Linked DNA regions of Homo sapiens: region 2 is linked to region 1. Evidence: fine-mapped QTL for protein levels in blood plasma. Region 1 holds a variant in brackets. A gene starts in the other region. All regions are shown on their forward strands.

Region 1 (8,328 bases):
AGCCTGGCCAACATGGTGAGACCCCACCTATACTAAAAATTCAAAAATTAGCCGGGCATAGTGGTGGGCACCTGTAATAACAGCTACTCGGGATGCTGAGGCAGAAGAATCGCTCACAAGTGCTCACCACTGTTGCGGGAAGTCAGGGACCCCTAACAGACGGACCGGCTGGAGCCACGGCAGAGGAACATAAATTGTGAAGATAACATGGACATTTATCACTTCCCAAATAATACTCTTATAATTTCTTACGCCTGTCTTACTTTCATCTCTTAATCCTGTTATCTTCATAAGCTGAGGATGTACGTCACCTCAGGACCCTGTGATAATTGTGTTAACTGTACAAATTGATTGTAAAATGTGTGTTTGAACAATGTGAAATCAGCGCACATTGAAAAAGAACAGAATGAGAGTGATTTTAGGGAACAAGGGAAGACAACCCTAAGGTCTGACTGCCTGCGGGGCTGGGCAAAAAGAGCCATATTTTTCTTCTTGCAGAGAGCCTATAAGTGGACGTGCAAGTAGGAGAGATATTGCTAAATTATTTTCCTAGCAAGGAATATTAACATTAAGACCCTGGGAAAGGAATTCATTCCTGGGGGGAGGTCTATAAATGGCCGCTCTGGGAATGTCTGTCCTATGCAGTTGAGATAAGGACTGAGATGCACCCTGGTCTCCTGCAGTACCCTCAGGCTTACTAGGGTGGGGAAAAACCCCGCCCTGGTAAATTTGAGGTCAGACCAGTTCTCTGCTCTTGAACCCTGTTTTCTGTTGTTTAAGATGTTTATCAAGACAATATGTGCACCACTGAACATAGACCCTTATCAGTTCTGCTTTTGCCCTTTGCCTTGTGATCTTTGTTGGACCCTGATCAGTAGTTCCGTTTTTTGCCCTTTGAAGCATGTGATCTTTGTACCTATTCTCGGTTCTTACACCCCCTTCCCTTCTGAAATCCTTAATAAAACTTGCTGGCTTTGAGCTCAGGTGGGCATCATGGTCCTACCGATATGTGATGTCACCCCCGGAGGCCCAGCTGTCAAATTCCTCTCTTTGTACTCTTTCTCTTTATTTCTCAGCTGGCCAGCACTTACGGAAAATAGAAAGAACCTACATCGAGGCCGGGCACAGTGGCTCACACCTGTAATCCCAGCACTTTGGGAGGCCGAGGTGGGAGGATCATGAGGTCAGGAGATTGAGACCATCCTGGCTAAATGTGAAACCCCATCTCTACTAAAAATACAAAAAATTAGCCGGGCGCGGTGGCAGGCGCCTGTAGTCCCAGCTACTGGGGAGGCTGAGGCAGGAGAATGGCATGAACCCAGGAGGCAGAGCTTGCAGTGAGCTGAGATCGCACCACTGCACTCCAGCCTGGGCGACAGAGCGAGACTCCATCTCAAAAAAAAAAAAAAAAAGAACCTACATTGAAATATTAGGGGCAGGTTCCCCCGATACCACCATGCGTGGCTTTTTAAAATTTTTTTTTAACAGATGGCCTCTTACTATGTTGCCCACGCTGGTGTTGAACTCCTGGACTCAAGTGATCCTCCTGCCTTGGCACCCAAAGTGCAGGGATTATAGGCATGAGCAACCACACATGGCCATGATAATAGCTGGAAAACACAAAAAGGCCGGGCGTGGTGGGTCACACCTGTAATCCCAGCGCTTTGGGAGGCAAATGCCCGCAAATGTGGGCAGATCACAAGGTCAGGAGTTTGAGACCAGCCTGACCAACATGGTGAAACCTAGTCTCTAGTAAAAATACAAAAATTAGCTGGGCGTGGTGGTGCGTGCCTGTAATCCCAGCTACTCAGGAGGCTGAGGCAGGAAAATCGCTTGAACCTGGAAGGCGGAGCTTGCAGTGAGCCGAGATCATGCCACCGCACTCCAGCCTGGGCGACAGAGCGAGACTCTGTCTCAAAAAAAAAAAGAGAGAGAGAGAGAAAATAGCCAGGTGCGGTGGCTCACACCTGTAATCTCAGCACTTTGGGAGGCCAAGGCAGGTGGATCACGAGGTCAGGAGTTCAAGACCAGCCTGGCCAAGATGGTGAAATCCCGTCTCTACTAAAACTACAAAAATTAGCCGGGCGTGGTGGTGGGCGCCTGTAATCCCAGTTACTCAGGAGGATGAGGCAGGAGAATTGCTTGAACCCAGGAGGCAGAGGTTGCAGTGAGCCAAGATCATGCCTCTGCACTCCAGCCTGGGTGACAAAGCAAGACTCTGTCTCGAAAAAAAATAAATAAATAAAAATTAAAATAAAAAAAAAAGAGAGAAAACAAAAAGAACAAGCTATGGAGAGGTCCCCATCTAGACTCTGAATCAAGAGTCCAGAGAGACAGCCCTGTGGAGTGCTTGAGAGCACTCCTACTCCAGCTGCCCTTGGGGCCATGTCACAAATCTGGGCCAGCATCCCCATCATCTCCTGAGCACCACACCTTCCTTGGATGCCTGTGACCATCACTCGTATCAGGTCTTGTCACCTCCTGACCAAAGCATGGCCATCAGGGACTGTGTGGGTGTCCAAGCTTCTGTCCATGCGGCCCTGGTAGTCATTGGTGGGTGTCCCTTCTCAAAAGTGAGAACACAGGGTGCTGGGTAACCTATGGTGTCTTTTTGCCTTGACAGCCCCACGCCGACACTTACTCCCGTGGTCCTGTAGACTGGAGGGATCCTCAGAAGTGGGCTTACCGAGATCTAAGCAGCCGAGGATCCCAACGACAAGTCCCATCACGTGGTACAGAGGCAGGACCGTGTAAACCACATCATCAGCTGTGGCCCCAGATAAGGACAGCATCTTGCTCATCTGCAGTACCCGCTCATGCGTGAGGATGGCTGGCTTCGGGAGGCCTTGGGATGAAGGCATGGCAAGGGCAGGGTGGTGACATGACAGCACAGAGAGGGGCCTGACCAGAGGGATAGATCTCCAACAGCCAGGCCTACATTGGGGTTTGAGGCTCTCAGAGAACAGTCAAGTATAGGGATTTGTGGTTGGGTTCACAGGCTGAATTTGGACTGAAAGTAATATGTCAAGATCAAAGGTTTCAGTGGCTGTTTACTGGACACAGGAAGAATTCTGGCATTGACCTCTCAAATTACATTGGGGGTCAGAGTTCAGGCCAAATATCAAAATCAAGTCTGGGAGCAGTGGCTCACGCCTGTAATCCCAGCATTTTGAGAGGCTGAGTTGGGCAGGTCCCCTGAGGTCAGGGGTTAGAGACCAGCCTGGCTAACTTGGGGAAACCCTGTCTCTACCAAAAATACAAAAATTAGCTGGGCATAGTGGTGTGTGCCTGTAATCCCAGCTACTCAGGAGGCTGAGGCAAGAGAATTGCTTGAACCCAGGAGGTGGAGGTTGCAGTGAGCCGAGATTGCACCACTGCAGTCCAGCCTAGGCGACAGAGCGAGACTCTGCCTCGAAAAAAAAAACAGCCAAACAAAAAACAAATGTCAAAATCAGAGGGTAAAGTGGTTTCAGAGGTCAACACTGAGTCACAAGTCAAGTGTGGGGTCAGGTCAGCCTGAGAGTTCAGAGGCTGGTGCTAGGGCTAATGGGCACCCTCACCAGTGGTCCCCGAGGTATAGATGAAGAGGGCAGGGCTTCTCCATGTGATCCCAGCACGCAGGTCAGCAGGCACTGGGTGGGAGGGCGCTGCATCCAGGGCAGCCCCCAGAGCCCCCACCCCTGGTGTAGGGGAGGTATGGCTGAGGTAGAAGCAGCGGATGTTCTCAGCCTGCAGCTTGGGAAGGATCTCCTCCAGGCTCTCCCGGAGGTCTGCAGAGATGGGTCAGAGGAGAAACAGAGGCAAGGCTCACCTTTGAGGTTGCGAGGCGGGATCTGAGACCCACAGATGCAGGCAGAGGAGCAGCTAGTAGAGAAAAGCATCCATGTTGTTTGGTAAAGAATCCCATCATTAGTATTTTTGGTCAAATTGTGGGAAAATTAAACTCTGATGACCTGAGAACTACTTTCTGCTCATAAGTCTTGATTATAATTGCCTGTGAAAGTAGGCAGGTGGGGACCAAGGGCCTCTGCCAGTCCCAGCAGAACCCCTGTCCTATAGTCCCTGCCCTTGCCCCCTTCCATTCTCCACTGGCTCCAAGGCCCTCACCTGGGTCCACCACCAGCACCCGGGCCCCAGAGCTCAGCACAGAGTGCGCCAGGGGCATCCCCCGGCCATGCGGGTTGATCCAGGCTGTTGGGCAGCCCAGCTTGGCCAGCCCCAGCCACATACACAGGGCTGGAACGGCCTGGGAAGCCAGCACAAGGAGGGCAGTAGGCTCCCCGGCACACAGGCTCGCAGGGTCACCCAGCTCAGCCTTCAGGGCCCATGCCGCCTGGCAGGCCCGGGCATCCAGCTCACCAAAGGTGACTGAGCCGGCCCCAGGCCCCGTCCACACCAAGAGTGCCCTGCCAGGCTGCGCTCGTGCTCGCCGCTCGAAGGCATCTACAAAGGTGTCAGGCGGCTGCCGGCTCAAGCATCCCCTGATCTTCAGGCCCAGGTGGAGGATCTTGGCCAAGAAGATCACATCAGCCGGCAGCCAGCGTAGTCCTGGGGGCAGCCGTGCTGGCAGGAGGGTTAGTGCCAGGGCCGCAGCTGCCAGGCTCAGCCCATGGGGCACCCAGGGGCCGAGCCAGGGCC[G/A]TGCTAACATGGCCAGCCCAAGTAGCACGCAACATGTGGGATCCCCCAGGAGCCAGCGCAGGGTCAAGGCCACAGCGACTGGCCACACTGGCTGCCCCAGGCCCCAGAGCAGGAGCAGCAGCAGCAGCAGCAAGGCCAACTGTTGCCTGACACCCATGGTACCAGCTCCTCCCTAGGAGCAGCAGCTGTGGAGTGTTCAGGCTCACCTCTGGCCCCTCAAGAGTAGCCCAATGGCTCCTCCCCAGGGGTGGTGGCCCTGGCACTGCTGACAGTGGCTGGTCCTCTCCCCAGGACTTTGCCCCCAGCCCTTCTCCTCTACGTTTGTTTGCTCTGCCTGGTCTTGTGTGTGGGTCCAGCCCCTCTCTGCCTGGCGCTAACCCTTTCCATCACTGGCCTCTGGGTTCCCAGGTCTCTGCCCCTTGGGCACCACTAGCCTCCTTCCTGCTGTCCTGCTTGCCCCATCCACCCTCCAGGGCTGGCATCTAACTCCCTTGCCTCCCCTCCCATCCCTGCTGGGTACCAGACACTCAGAGCACAGAAATCCCTGCCCTTGGGAACACTCCAATCAGGCCAAACAGAAAAGCAACAGGACAGCAAGGTGGACCTCATTGGGAGGTCCTCCTGTGACACCCACTGAAACCCTGAGGAGAGGGGCTCAGCCAGGCTAAGCCCCTTGTCCCATGATCCGAGGAATCGTACCCTCCTGCCAGGCATACAGCAAGTGCTCAGTAAATACAGGAACACTGGCATCGCCTGGATTCAAACCCAGCTCTGCCCCCCACCCATGTGCTTGCTCTGACTCTCTGCTCCACCTCTGGCTTTGACGACGATGGAGTCCTGGGGTTCAGGAGACTGAAGTCAGCCCATGATGCACACAGTTGGATCATGAAAGCCCTGGCCTCTCACCTTGAGGAAGCAGTCTCAGAAGGTGAACCCAGAGGAGCTGCCATTGGCCTAGGAGCCTGGCAGGTCAGGCTGGGGTATGGCCTGGGGCCATACCCCACTCCACCAGCTCCAAATCCTTATGGCAGGGCACCTAGGCTAGGAGCCACTATTGTGCTGAAGAGGAGAGGGGCAAAGAGTGGCTGCTCTCTCCGCTGGATGCAGGGGCCTGGGACACTGGCTGGCCAGTAGGGGTGGTGTCCCCAACCGCCCAGCAGTCAGCCCCAGGATCCCACCCCTCACTGTTTCCTGCCCCCAACACGGCCATCGGAGCCCTCCCTGAACTTTGCCCCCAGCACCAAGGGCAGATATATGGGGGCTTATATACCCTCAGTGCAACCTGGCCCCAAAGATCCCCCTGGGCTCCCCACAAGTAAGGTGCTCAGCCATGTCCATCAAGGTCGGGGAGGGGAAGTCTTAAGTCCAAAAGACCCTTAGAGCCTGACTGGAAGATCTATGGGAGGGGCCTTAAAGGTCGTGGACAGCAGCAACCAGGAGTATGATGGGGCTTTCACGTGGCCTCCCTCTCGGAGACCCACCTCAGATGTGGCCTGCCTATCCTACTCCCCACAGGACTGAGGGATCCAAGAGAACCAAGTGCTGGTTATATATGCAGCCCACCTTAGCCCCTACAGAATAGAGGTCCTAGATGGCAAAGTGGACCATCCTGTTCCTGCCCAGGACAGCCTGTGGGCCGCATGGATGCCACCCAAGAACAGGGACGCTGAACCCTGACACTCACATCTTGTCTATGAGGGCAAGGCACGCACTGATCCAGGTGCTCACAGCTTCGTGGTTTAGGCCCCATGGCCTACAGTCCTTTATTAGAGCGAGAGTCCCGAGGCCCAGCCCCCATATATGATGGGTCCACTTGAGTCTCCTTAGGCGCCCCATGAGGGAGTAACAGCTTGGGTAGAGAGCTAGGGACCTTGCCCAGCCTGACCCTGGGGCAGGCAAGCGGCCCCCCAGCCCCCACCACCACCCCAGGAGAGGGCGGGGTGAGAACCGGAGTCAAATCTTGGGCCGGGTCCAAGCGCCTGAGCGCCCGGTTTACGCAGGAAATAGTCCAGTTCTCAGAAGTGGTCTAACCAGCCCCAGCCCCAGCCCGGCACCACCTGGAGGGTTCAAGTACATGGAGGAGAGGAGTAAGGCGGACTTAGGCCCTGGTATGGAGAAAGGGTGAAGGGAGAGAGAGGACCTGCGCTCAGGAGGGAGCGTGGTCTAGTGGCGGGAACCACGGGTCCCGCAGCGGGCGTGGCCGACTGTGCGGGAGGCCCCGGATCCACCGTGGGCGAGGCCAGGCCCCAGCGCCATCAGGGCGCAGGGTGCGCCGCCAGGTGGCGCTCCAGCAGCGCGCGGTGCGAGAAGACCTTGCCGCAGGCGGGGCAGGGCGCGCGCTCGGGCCGGTGAGTGCGCATGTGCACGTTGAGCGAGCTCTTCTGCGTGAAGCGCTTGGCGCAGACGGCGCACTGGAAGGCGCGCACGCCGGTGTGCGTGACCATGTGTTTGAGCAGGTAGTCGCGTAGAGAGAAGGATCGCCAGCACACGGCGCACTGGTGCGGCTTCTCCCCTGCGGAAGACAGGGCGGGCCGCGAACGCAAGTCAGACTCTACAGCTCCCCGCCCCCACCCCACCCCACCCCCACCTGGGCTCCTGGACCTAGCAGGGGCTCCCCTCCCCTCCCGAACCACCACCCCGGGATCCCTTGCCTATCAGAGAACCCTCCCCTCACTATGGGATCTTCCTGCCCAGCAGGGACACCCCCTCCTCTCCAGGACCTCCCTTCACGTTGGGACTTTCCTGCCCAACAGGGATCCTCATACACTGTGAGGTACCCCTCTCCCATCCCTTCCTGGCAGGGACCCCCTTTCTGTTATCCTGGGATATCACTGTGACAGGGCACCCCTAAATCCAGCAAGCACCCTGTCTGCAAGGAACCCAGCCTGTCTGGAACATCTGTTGGCCATCTGGACTGCCCACTGGGATCTCCCTCTACCCTCAGGTACCCTCCCCCTCAACCCCTACCCACCCGGCACAGGGAGACACTGGGTCCTGGCCCCCCTCGCCTATGCCCATAGAGTCCCCTAAACTCAGTCTGACAAGGCCAGTGCCCTTTCATAAGGAGGGACCTGGGCACATCTGCCACCTTCCTGCAGGAAGCCCCAGTTGCCCAGAACCCCTGCCCGCTGGCCACTATAATGTCCTTGGTGTGATAGAGAGAGCTCCTCATTCTGGGTTAGGGGAGGGGAGGCAGTCTGAGTCCACCCCTAGATTCATCAGATGTTAACAAAATGCCTGTCTCAGCCAGGCGTGGTGGCTCACACCTGTAATCCCAGCACTTTGGGAGGCCAAGGCAGGCAGATCGCTTGAGGCCAGGAGTTCGAGACCAACGTGGTGAAACCCCATCTCTACTAAAAATACAAAAAATAGCCGGGTGTGGTGGTGCACGCCTGTAATCCCAGCTACTTGGGAGACTGAGGCACAAGAATCACTTGAACCCAGGAGGCAGAGGTTGCAGTGAGCCGAGATCACACCACTGCACTCCAGCCTGGGCAACAGAGGGAGACTCGGTCTCAAAAAAAATTAAAAAAAAAAAAACCCTATCTCAGTGGCAGTGGACTGAAAGGCAGTGCCTGCCAGAGGGTACCCCAGAATAACCTGGCCCAGGCACCTGGCTCAGATCACACACTTCACACAGCCAGCACTACCCTGGGGCCTCTGGCAGTTCCCTGGAGACTAATCACCCAA
Region 2 (8,328 bases), not on the chromosome of region 1:
AAAGGAGTGGAAGAGAAGATACGTAGGTATTAAATACAGAGGCCACCTACTCGATAATCCTGCCTAGTGAAAGTCCTACTGAAGTATTCATATTTCAAGTGCAGCTTTGATTAGATGTCAAGGGCAGCCAGATAACGTCCTGGTTAAAACAATCCTTGACCCTCAAAAGCCTTGGATAAAAAGATGAACGTAATACAAAAAGATCTATGAGATATGATTTCCAGAGAAAGATATATTTCACCTTTCAACTTTTCTTCCCAGAAAAAAATGCTGGAGAAGGAAAACAAAATAAGAGTTTCTTCTACCAATAAAATAAACCTCAAAAGTCTGGGTCTTGAAAACACAAATAAGAATTTTTCTCCAGCTCTGTTACAGCCTACTATACCCTACCTAAAATCCTTCAGCAGCTTTTCAGGGCTTTGTAAAGCCTCTACTCCTCAACCAGTTGTGATTTGTGAGTATTATCTTATCCATTATCTTAATTTAAATATCTAGACTGCCTTGTTTTGATTAACCTGTATCTAGTAATATTTCAGCTGTTTGCATCTCAGATTTTCTGTTTTCCACTGTTGCAATACTTTCCTGAAGCTTCCAAAATAAAAAATGTGTTGTCAGTAGATCAGAAAGTTAGTGTTACACAACAGAGAGTAAAAAGGCATAGAAGGAAACGATCTTGGCTCATAAGCTAAGCCCATCACCCCCTAGTTCCGGACCATTGGGCAAGCAACTTAATTCTTCTGTATGTCAATTTCCTAATCTGCAAAGCATAGATAGCAGCATCCACTTTACAAATTGGTTATGAGGATGATGTAGATGTTTGTAAAGGACTCAACAGGCTGCTCATAGTCACCAGGCCTTTGATAAAGCAGCTTTTTCAAAACATATATATCAGTATTGTCCTACTGACACATGACCCATCATCATTCTAACTTGTTTAGTTCACCAAACATATGCCAATAGACATGAGAAGTAACATGGCATTTCTTTCTTCTGCTCCCAGCCTGCTTCCAACTATTTAAGCCATTTTCTTCAAAATATTTGGCAAATCAGAACATTGACCTAAGACTCACAATATTAACTGTAATTTTACCTTCTCAAATCTAGTTGAGTGATACAATTCGAGTCAGACTAGACCCTACCAATCATCTAGTCTAATTATACCTCTTGATTATTTGCAGGCTTATATATTTTGACAGTTATTTGTATAGTGAATATGAATACTACTACACCACAAAACAGTAAACAAATGAGTAAATGTCACATTTCCTTATTTTTAAAATCAAATTAAATCACTCTGATATCCTATTCCACTAAGTTGATGGAAAATCCAATCTGAGTCATTACTGGGTTTGTCTGTTAGGGTTATGAAATCATTTTAAGTGGTGGGTTCTAAACCTAAGCAGAATGTTTTGGAAAGGCCATCTGGCATTCATTCTACACTACGTATCATCGAATTATTCATTGCCAAAGTTACTGGTCCCTTTAATTTAGACAATTCTGCTACTTCCATGTAATGCATTGACACAAGGTCTTTACCTTAGCTGGAACACAGGGTCCAGCGTCCCTAAAGATACCTTGCAACCATTCCTTCTGAGGTCCTGCTCCTCTCCCAGAATGCTGTCAGCCAGTGGGGTAAGGATCCCCATTATTCAAAGATATCCACATATTCATATCCCTTCTCCAACAGAATCCCTTGAAGGGGCTCAGGTTTTTAAAAACAATTCAGGAAAGGCGTTTTCTTTGGTTTCTTCTGCTTTCCAGCTGCTAGCACAAACCACCTCTAAGACTAGGGAGTGCAAGGTTCAGATTACTTTATTTTTTAGAAATTGAGAGGCAAGAAAAGGCAGAAAACTCAAATCAAAAGGGTACTTTTTCTGTATTTTTAAATATAGCAATAAAATAGAAAATCATATCCCAAAATAAGCTATCTCATCACATTCTAATAAATAAGTCACAGTTCTTGGCCCTAGGGAGTTTACAATCTGATAGTGAAAGAGAGAACACTGCTAGCTATAATACAAGGCATGTGGCAGGTGTCATAAGTGAATCGGAGCTTCAGAGTGCTGTGAGAGTTCAGAGGAAGGAGATGAATTTTGCAGCTGATTTTAGTAAGCAGAGACAGAGGAATCAGTAAGTTTGGAGGGAATTTCATAAGCAAAGGTGAGAAGGTGAAAGAACATATTCCCAGAACAGGGAACACAATCTAGCCTGATTTTATTTTATTTTTCTGTTAGCAATGTCAGGAAGAATTGGAGCTGTGGAGCCCAAATAAGCAGGTGTGGCATTAACTAGTAGGTGAGATTAGCCCATGTCTCACGTAGAAGCATGAGGGACAAGCGGGGAACAATGGTTCCTGGATTTTGAACTGAATCTTTTGAGAATGGGGGTACCATACATAGGAAAAGTCTAGAAGCAGAGCTGGTTGTGGGTGGGAGGATGAGGGAGAAAACGACAGAAATGTAAAATAGATTTCAGCTTAGGGAGAGTTTGAGCTGGAGCTGCCCTTTAACTGACTAAAAAAGAAGGGCTGCAGTTTGAAAGGTTAGGGACTGGGCCATGGATTTTTTATGAATTTTTTTAAAAGAAGGTAGGTAGGCTGTGAGGTTCCTTCGTTTATTATTTTTTTTAAGACAAAGTCTCGCTCTGTCGCCAGGCTGGAGTACAGTGGCGCGATCTCAGCTCACTGCAACCTCCGATGACTCCCTGGTTCAAGTGATTCTCCTGCCTCAGCCTTCCGAGTAGCTGGGATTACAGGCACACGCCGCCAACATGCCCGGCTAATTGTTATATTTTTAGTAGAGATGGGGTTTCACCATGTTGGCCAGGATGGTCTCGATCTCCTGACCTCATGATCCGCCCCCCTCGGCCTCCCAAGTGCTGGGATTACAGGTGTGAGCCACTGCGCCCAGCCTGCTGTGAGGTTCTTGAGGGGAGGGGCTGAGTCATATTATTTGAAAAAAAATAACACTTGAAGCCAGGAATGACAATAAGGAAAGGGAGGGAGGAAGGAAAGAAGAAAGAAGCAAAAAAAGGAAAGGTAACAGAGGACAAGGAGGAGAGTGAAATACCACAGATGGGAAAGGAGAAGCATTCAGTGAGGGGAAAACCAGGGAGTGGTCAATGACATTCTTTAGGTAATGTGGAGAGATGTCAGTAAGGAAATGTGCTGAGAAAAACCCACAAAGAATGTCATTTAGTACACCCCTGAAGACCTTGCATGGGGCAGAGTGGACGGGGCAGATGTCCCACTGGGAGGGCTTAAGTAGTGACAGGTAATTAAATGAGCTGGTAGGGCTCAGTCAGGTGGATGACGACCAAGAAGCTGTGCTGGCTCCTCTTGGTACTGTCACATACATACCAAGTTCCTCAATAAGGTGGCAGTTTTCAGGTTCTACTGGCTCCACTTCTCGAGAGGCATTCACCCTTTCTCTGTAGAAGATAAAACCCAACCCTGGAAGTCAAGGCACAGCATTCAAAATGTATGTTTAAATGTGGACTTCAATCATCTTCGTGTTGGTTAACTATCTTTATCATAATTTATGAATGACATAACAAGTAAGTAGGTACTTCCTTTCATGTTTATTTACATAATGTAGACATTATGTGGGTATTTTACCTATATCAGCTAACCTTACCCAGTTATTGCTGAAAAACTGTATAATATGATTCAACATGGAAAATTCTGCTGCCCAAATAAAAGACACTATTTAATAGTATGAGTAATTGAACAATATTATTAATTTAAATGCACGAAATAGCCCTAATTTTCTAAAGTATCGTCTGTTATAAATCTGCACTTAATCCCCTACAGTCTTGCCCTTTGAACTTTTCCTTCCAAACTGCTTTCCCAAAATTCAACAGGGTCTCCTAATAGTCAAACTCTATCACTTTTGCTTTAATTTTTAAATTTTATGCTGACTTACTCCGCAAGTATGTAAATTCATTAAACCAACCACAATTTAAACAATTGGCCGATTTATTTTTCAACACAATTTTCTTGTTTCCAGAGTGAAAAGGAATGTTTCCACATTCTTCTAATATCAGGGATAATTTAAAATTTTTATTAAAGTATATTCAGAAAGACTCAATACTTATCTTACAGTCATTTATTTAAAAAAATACCCTTAGATCTACTTTATTATTATTACTATTATTTTATGATTCTCCATGTGGTTGCACTGGGAGCAAATGTAACAATAAAACTCTCAAACTGGAAGTATTACTAATAGGCACCAGGCACCTCAACAGATTCTAGACGTGATCCTCTAAGAAGACCAGCTTCAACTAAGAGAAATACATAAACACTCAAAGACAACTGAAAGCAAGCAGAGGCTTTCGATCCACTCATGAATGTGTATTATCACTTAAAGGTTCTTCTTTCTAGCCCAGTATTGACTTTTCCTGAGACATTTCTAGGCTGGCTATCACCATTGTATCTTCCACTTCAAAAGGTCAAATGCCTACAAAATGCCAGTTACCGCCTGCAGGTTTCAGCTGGTTTGCCCTGCTGTCTGGCCAGCTCTTTAAATCTAGGATAGGTTCCATAACCCAGTACTTCTGCATGGTTAGCCAGACCTGGGCAATGTCTCAGTCAGCCGTAAACATCCAACTGGTAGCCTGATCCTCTCTCCCAAGTCCGGCGTTTCCAATGGACGTCCTTTTTTCCCAAGCAGAATGTTGAGGGCGAGCTGGGAAAGGGGTCATCACGTTCAGAAAGTAAAAGGGGGTCATGACCTTCAGAAAGCAAAGTGGGGGATCATAACCTTCAAAAAATAAATGGGACTAATTCGGCTCGGCAGTCTTTGGAAACGCAAGTAGCTCACTTTCCCCATAAGCGAGTCTCAAGGGGCGGTTTGCTGGGTGAGATGGAGGAGTGAGGTTCCAAAGCTGCTCTTTCCTACCCGCTAGGAAGGGGGCGCCAGGCAGCCCCTGACCTCACTTGGAAGAGGAGAGAAAGAGAGTCGAAGACGCCCTGTCAAGATGCCACTCACCTAAACGCCAGGAACATCTCCCCGACTAAGGACAGGCCGACCCCCAGCAGGACCAGCGCCACGAGCTTCCCCATGGTCTCGGGGTGCCCAGCGGCGACTGCGCGGCGCCGAGAGCTCTCGGGGGCGCGGCGGGCGGTTCCTGCCTCGCGTACGGATTGGGGCCCGCTCGGCCCCGCCCGCACACGCCTCCTACTTACCTGAGCGGCCCGGGTGCCGCAGCAGGGCGCTGACGAGTCCCGCCGAGCCCCGCCGCCCGGGTTCAAGGCCGCCTTCACGCCCACGATTCCTTGTTTTTTGGGCAGAGGTCAAGGCTCAACGGAGAGGGAGCCCGGGACCGAGTTGTGGTGGGAGTTTGCTCCTAACACCCGCGAAATCCTACCTCAATTCCTCAGATGGCCTGAGGGAGAAACCGGAGGGCCCGGGAATGGCGGGGAGCTCCAGTTCAGAGCCGGAACTCCGGACTTCTGCAAGGCCAGACGTGAGGCGACACTGAATTGCTCCCGAGACGCGGGAAGGGCGAAGGCAATCGAAGCGAAGAGCTTTAACTCATCTTCTCCAGGATTTGGGGCACGGGAACCTGTCTCCTGACCTTCGTGCCTTACCTCGGAGTGTGCTGCCCAGACGGACTTGTGAATAGCTGCGTCTGTCCCCATAGTTAACGGGAGAAGGAAACACCAGGAGAAAAGAAGGAAAAGACAGGAAACGGGAAGAGGAGCAGAGGCGAGGAAGGGGAAGGTCATTTCCTTGGCAGGGTAGGCCCTCTTTCTTCTAGGTCTTGAGTTCCTGCCAGGCAAGAAATGCTCTTTCCCCTCTCCTGATGAACACCAGGTTGGAGGGGGAGGAACTGAAGATGCGGGAAGACTTGGGGAGTTCGGGCAAAGTAGCACATTCAAGCATGATCTATTTTTATTTACGGACAGAAAGAAATATTAGTTCTGTTAGGTTCCACCGAGTAAACTATTTGTTGAGAGAGCAAGATTTGCCAATCCTGGGGGTATTAAGGAAAGAAAAGGTGGTCCCTGACCTATGGGATACATGATTCTAGTATGAATACGTAATTACAGGATGAATAATGAAGCCCACCGCTTATGCAGTACTGACTGTGTGCTTTGCCTGTGCTGACACCTATGTTAACGCATTTAATTATCAACACAATCTCTGGAGTGTGGGTAGCCTTACCCCAATTTTACAGGTGAGACCTGCAGCACAGATTGCTTATGTGGCTTGCTGTAGGTCAGGCAGCTGTCAAGCAGCAGACTCCAAAATCTGGGCCCTTAACTGAGCTGCCTCTACCATGCTGCCTCTAGAAAATCTATGGAAGAAGGGTTGTATTAAAAGGACAGTGTAACGTCTTGAATTGTATAGATTAGAGTTCTTGTTAAGATGACTAATGTTAAAAGAGTGCAAGCAGAGGAGGAATCGAAGTCAGGAGGGCTCACAGAGCTGAGGGGCCTGGGGTGTGATGTAGACATGCATGCAGGGTTTGGGAGTCAGGCTGCCTGGGTTTGGATCCAGCCTAGATAAAGTACTCAGCTTTATTGAGCTACAGATTCCTCTTCTGTAAAAGAACGTCCACCTCATAGGTAGCTTAAAATTAAATGTGATAATGAGTGTCAAGTGCTCTGCACTGTGCTTGATACGTTTTATGAAGTCAGTAAAGATTAACCACTAATTAATTCTGAACTTTGCTTGAGATTGTAGGCTCCTGTGGGAAGGACTCCATCGCATTGATCACTGGGTTTTCCCGTGCCATCCATAGAACTTTGTGCTTAATAATGACTCAATAAATATGATTAGATGGATGGATGTAAAATATGGACTTGGGAGAAAGAAAAATTAGAAGAATAAAAAATAAATGGAATGAATAATGAAATAATAATAGTCATATTATTATTTCACTCAGCGTTTGCATGCCTTGTCACATTACTTCTTATTAACCTTACCTACAAAGAAGTAAAGTGAATTGCTTGCTGCAAGTTTGATGGGACTAAAAAGAAGGAAAGTGAGGCTTTGAGGCTTAGAGAGGTAAAGTAATAATTCACTTAAGGTTACATAACTAAGTGTCAGTGCCTCCATCTGGACTCAGATCAGGTGACTCTAGAGCTCATGTTCCTTATCACTGTGTTTGCAGCATAGCATGAAGAAGGGGGTAAAGAAAGAAGCGTATTCTTGGGCAATTGATTGAAGTTCTGTGTTAGCTATAATTTGTTTAAAAATTCTTCACTTTAGGCAGAGGAGTCTCTGTGTGTGTGTGTGCATGTGTGTGTGTGTGTGTGTGTGTGTGTGTATACATTAACTTTAAACCCTAGAAGTGGTTAGTTTTTATTCGAATACCATAATCAGTAATTCAAATCCCCAGCATGGTAAATTAGCATTAAAGAATTCCAAACTTTGGAGGCCACTGTATCGAGTGTCACCATCTAAATCTGCTCTTGGCAATAGGCCAAATTGACTTGGTCAAGAGGCCACAGGTACATCAGTATTGTAAAAGGGGTTTGTTGACTTTGAAAGAGCAGGACAGATAAATTCAAAAGGCCTAAATTCAAGATCCAATTCCATTTGTAGTTGGCCCTTTAATCTTTTGAAATCACTTATCACCACCTCTGGACCCTTCTTTCCTTATATGTATAGTGGGGCTTTCAAAGAGCTAATGTAGACCAAATTCAATGCTATACGTTTAAACAGTAAGTAACACAATACTATATATAGATCTAGGGAGTCCCACACCATTGATAATCAAAATGCCATTAAGGGGGATGCAGAATATACATGTGGTATAATTCTAAGGTATAAAATTAGGGGAATTACATATTATCCACATATGTGTGTGTGTGTGTGTGTGTGTGTGTATATATATATATATATATAAACAATCTAGACATAAACTGAAGAGTAGTTACTTTGAGAGCAGAAGATTGGGGTCGTGGAGAGTGGGGAGGTCAGTGAGTATGGAAGGAGACTTTGCTTTTACTGTACGACCCTCTGTAATGTTTAAAATTTTCAAACTTTATATCTTGATCATGTTTACAATCGCTACATTTTTAATTTAAAAAGATTGTTTCTATCAGTGAATCTTGCCAAGAAAAAGAGGTGGCGATAGAGAAAAAGAGCAACAAATCAAAAGAGATTATGATTATATTGCAATAAAGCTGTTTTTTAAAAAGAGGATATGGATTTTAGAACATTAGGAAACATTGTCCTAAGCCATAGAAACCACTGTTTAAAACCTGGGTACGACTACATGGCATTAATGAGTCTAGTGCTGCTCAGAAGAGAGAAATGCTAGAGGACCAGATATTTGTATTATTTTAAGAAATGACTTCTATTATTTAGAAAA

Which allele goes with the higher level. Alleles are on the strand shown, and positions count from the first base shown. The strength of an association depends on the size of the effect and on how common the allele is.
As copies of A replace G in region 1, the plasma level of the protein whose gene starts at base 5,090 in region 2 goes up (moderate association).

What was found. A credible set is the group of variants that fine-mapping cannot tell apart. PIP is the chance, under the fine-mapping model, that this variant and not a neighbour inherited with it causes the effect. The UK Biobank Pharma Proteomics Project read protein levels with antibody pairs (Olink). The fine-mapping took linkage between variants from a reference panel, not from the people measured, so its PIPs are less certain.
Region 2: it holds the start of PON3, and the variant in region 1 is the best candidate, but not a certain one, in a credible set for the plasma level of the PON3 protein (UK Biobank, PIP 0.57).

The regions. Positions count from the first base shown.
Region 1 is chr19:58,507,161-58,515,488 of GRCh38, forward strand. SLC27A5 (solute carrier family 27 member 5) reads right to left here and starts at 4,832. Exons shown (of 10, transcript NM_012254.3): 1 at 4,108-4,832; 2 at 3,561-3,770; 3 at 2,687-2,845. The coding sequence starts at 4,795. ZBTB45 (zinc finger and BTB domain containing 45) reads right to left here. Exons shown (of 3, transcript NM_001316979.2): 3 at 6,370-7,150. The coding sequence ends at 6,894. LOC105372485 (a long non-coding RNA gene) reads left to right here. Exons shown (of 2, transcript XR_001754024.2): 2 at 2,624-3,963. RefSeq lists an enhancer at 4,535-5,049 and silencers at 6,834-6,883, 6,904-7,103, 7,214-7,263. The variant G/A (reference allele first, on the strand shown) is at 4,639.
Region 2 is chr7:95,391,286-95,399,613 of GRCh38, forward strand. PON3 (paraoxonase 3) reads right to left here and starts at 5,090. Exons shown (of 9, transcript NM_000940.3): 1 at 4,992-5,090; 2 at 3,359-3,429. The coding sequence starts at 5,065. It overlaps LOC107986822 (a long non-coding RNA gene), which reads left to right and starts at 5,187. Exons shown (of 2, transcript XR_007060439.1): 1 at 5,187-5,743.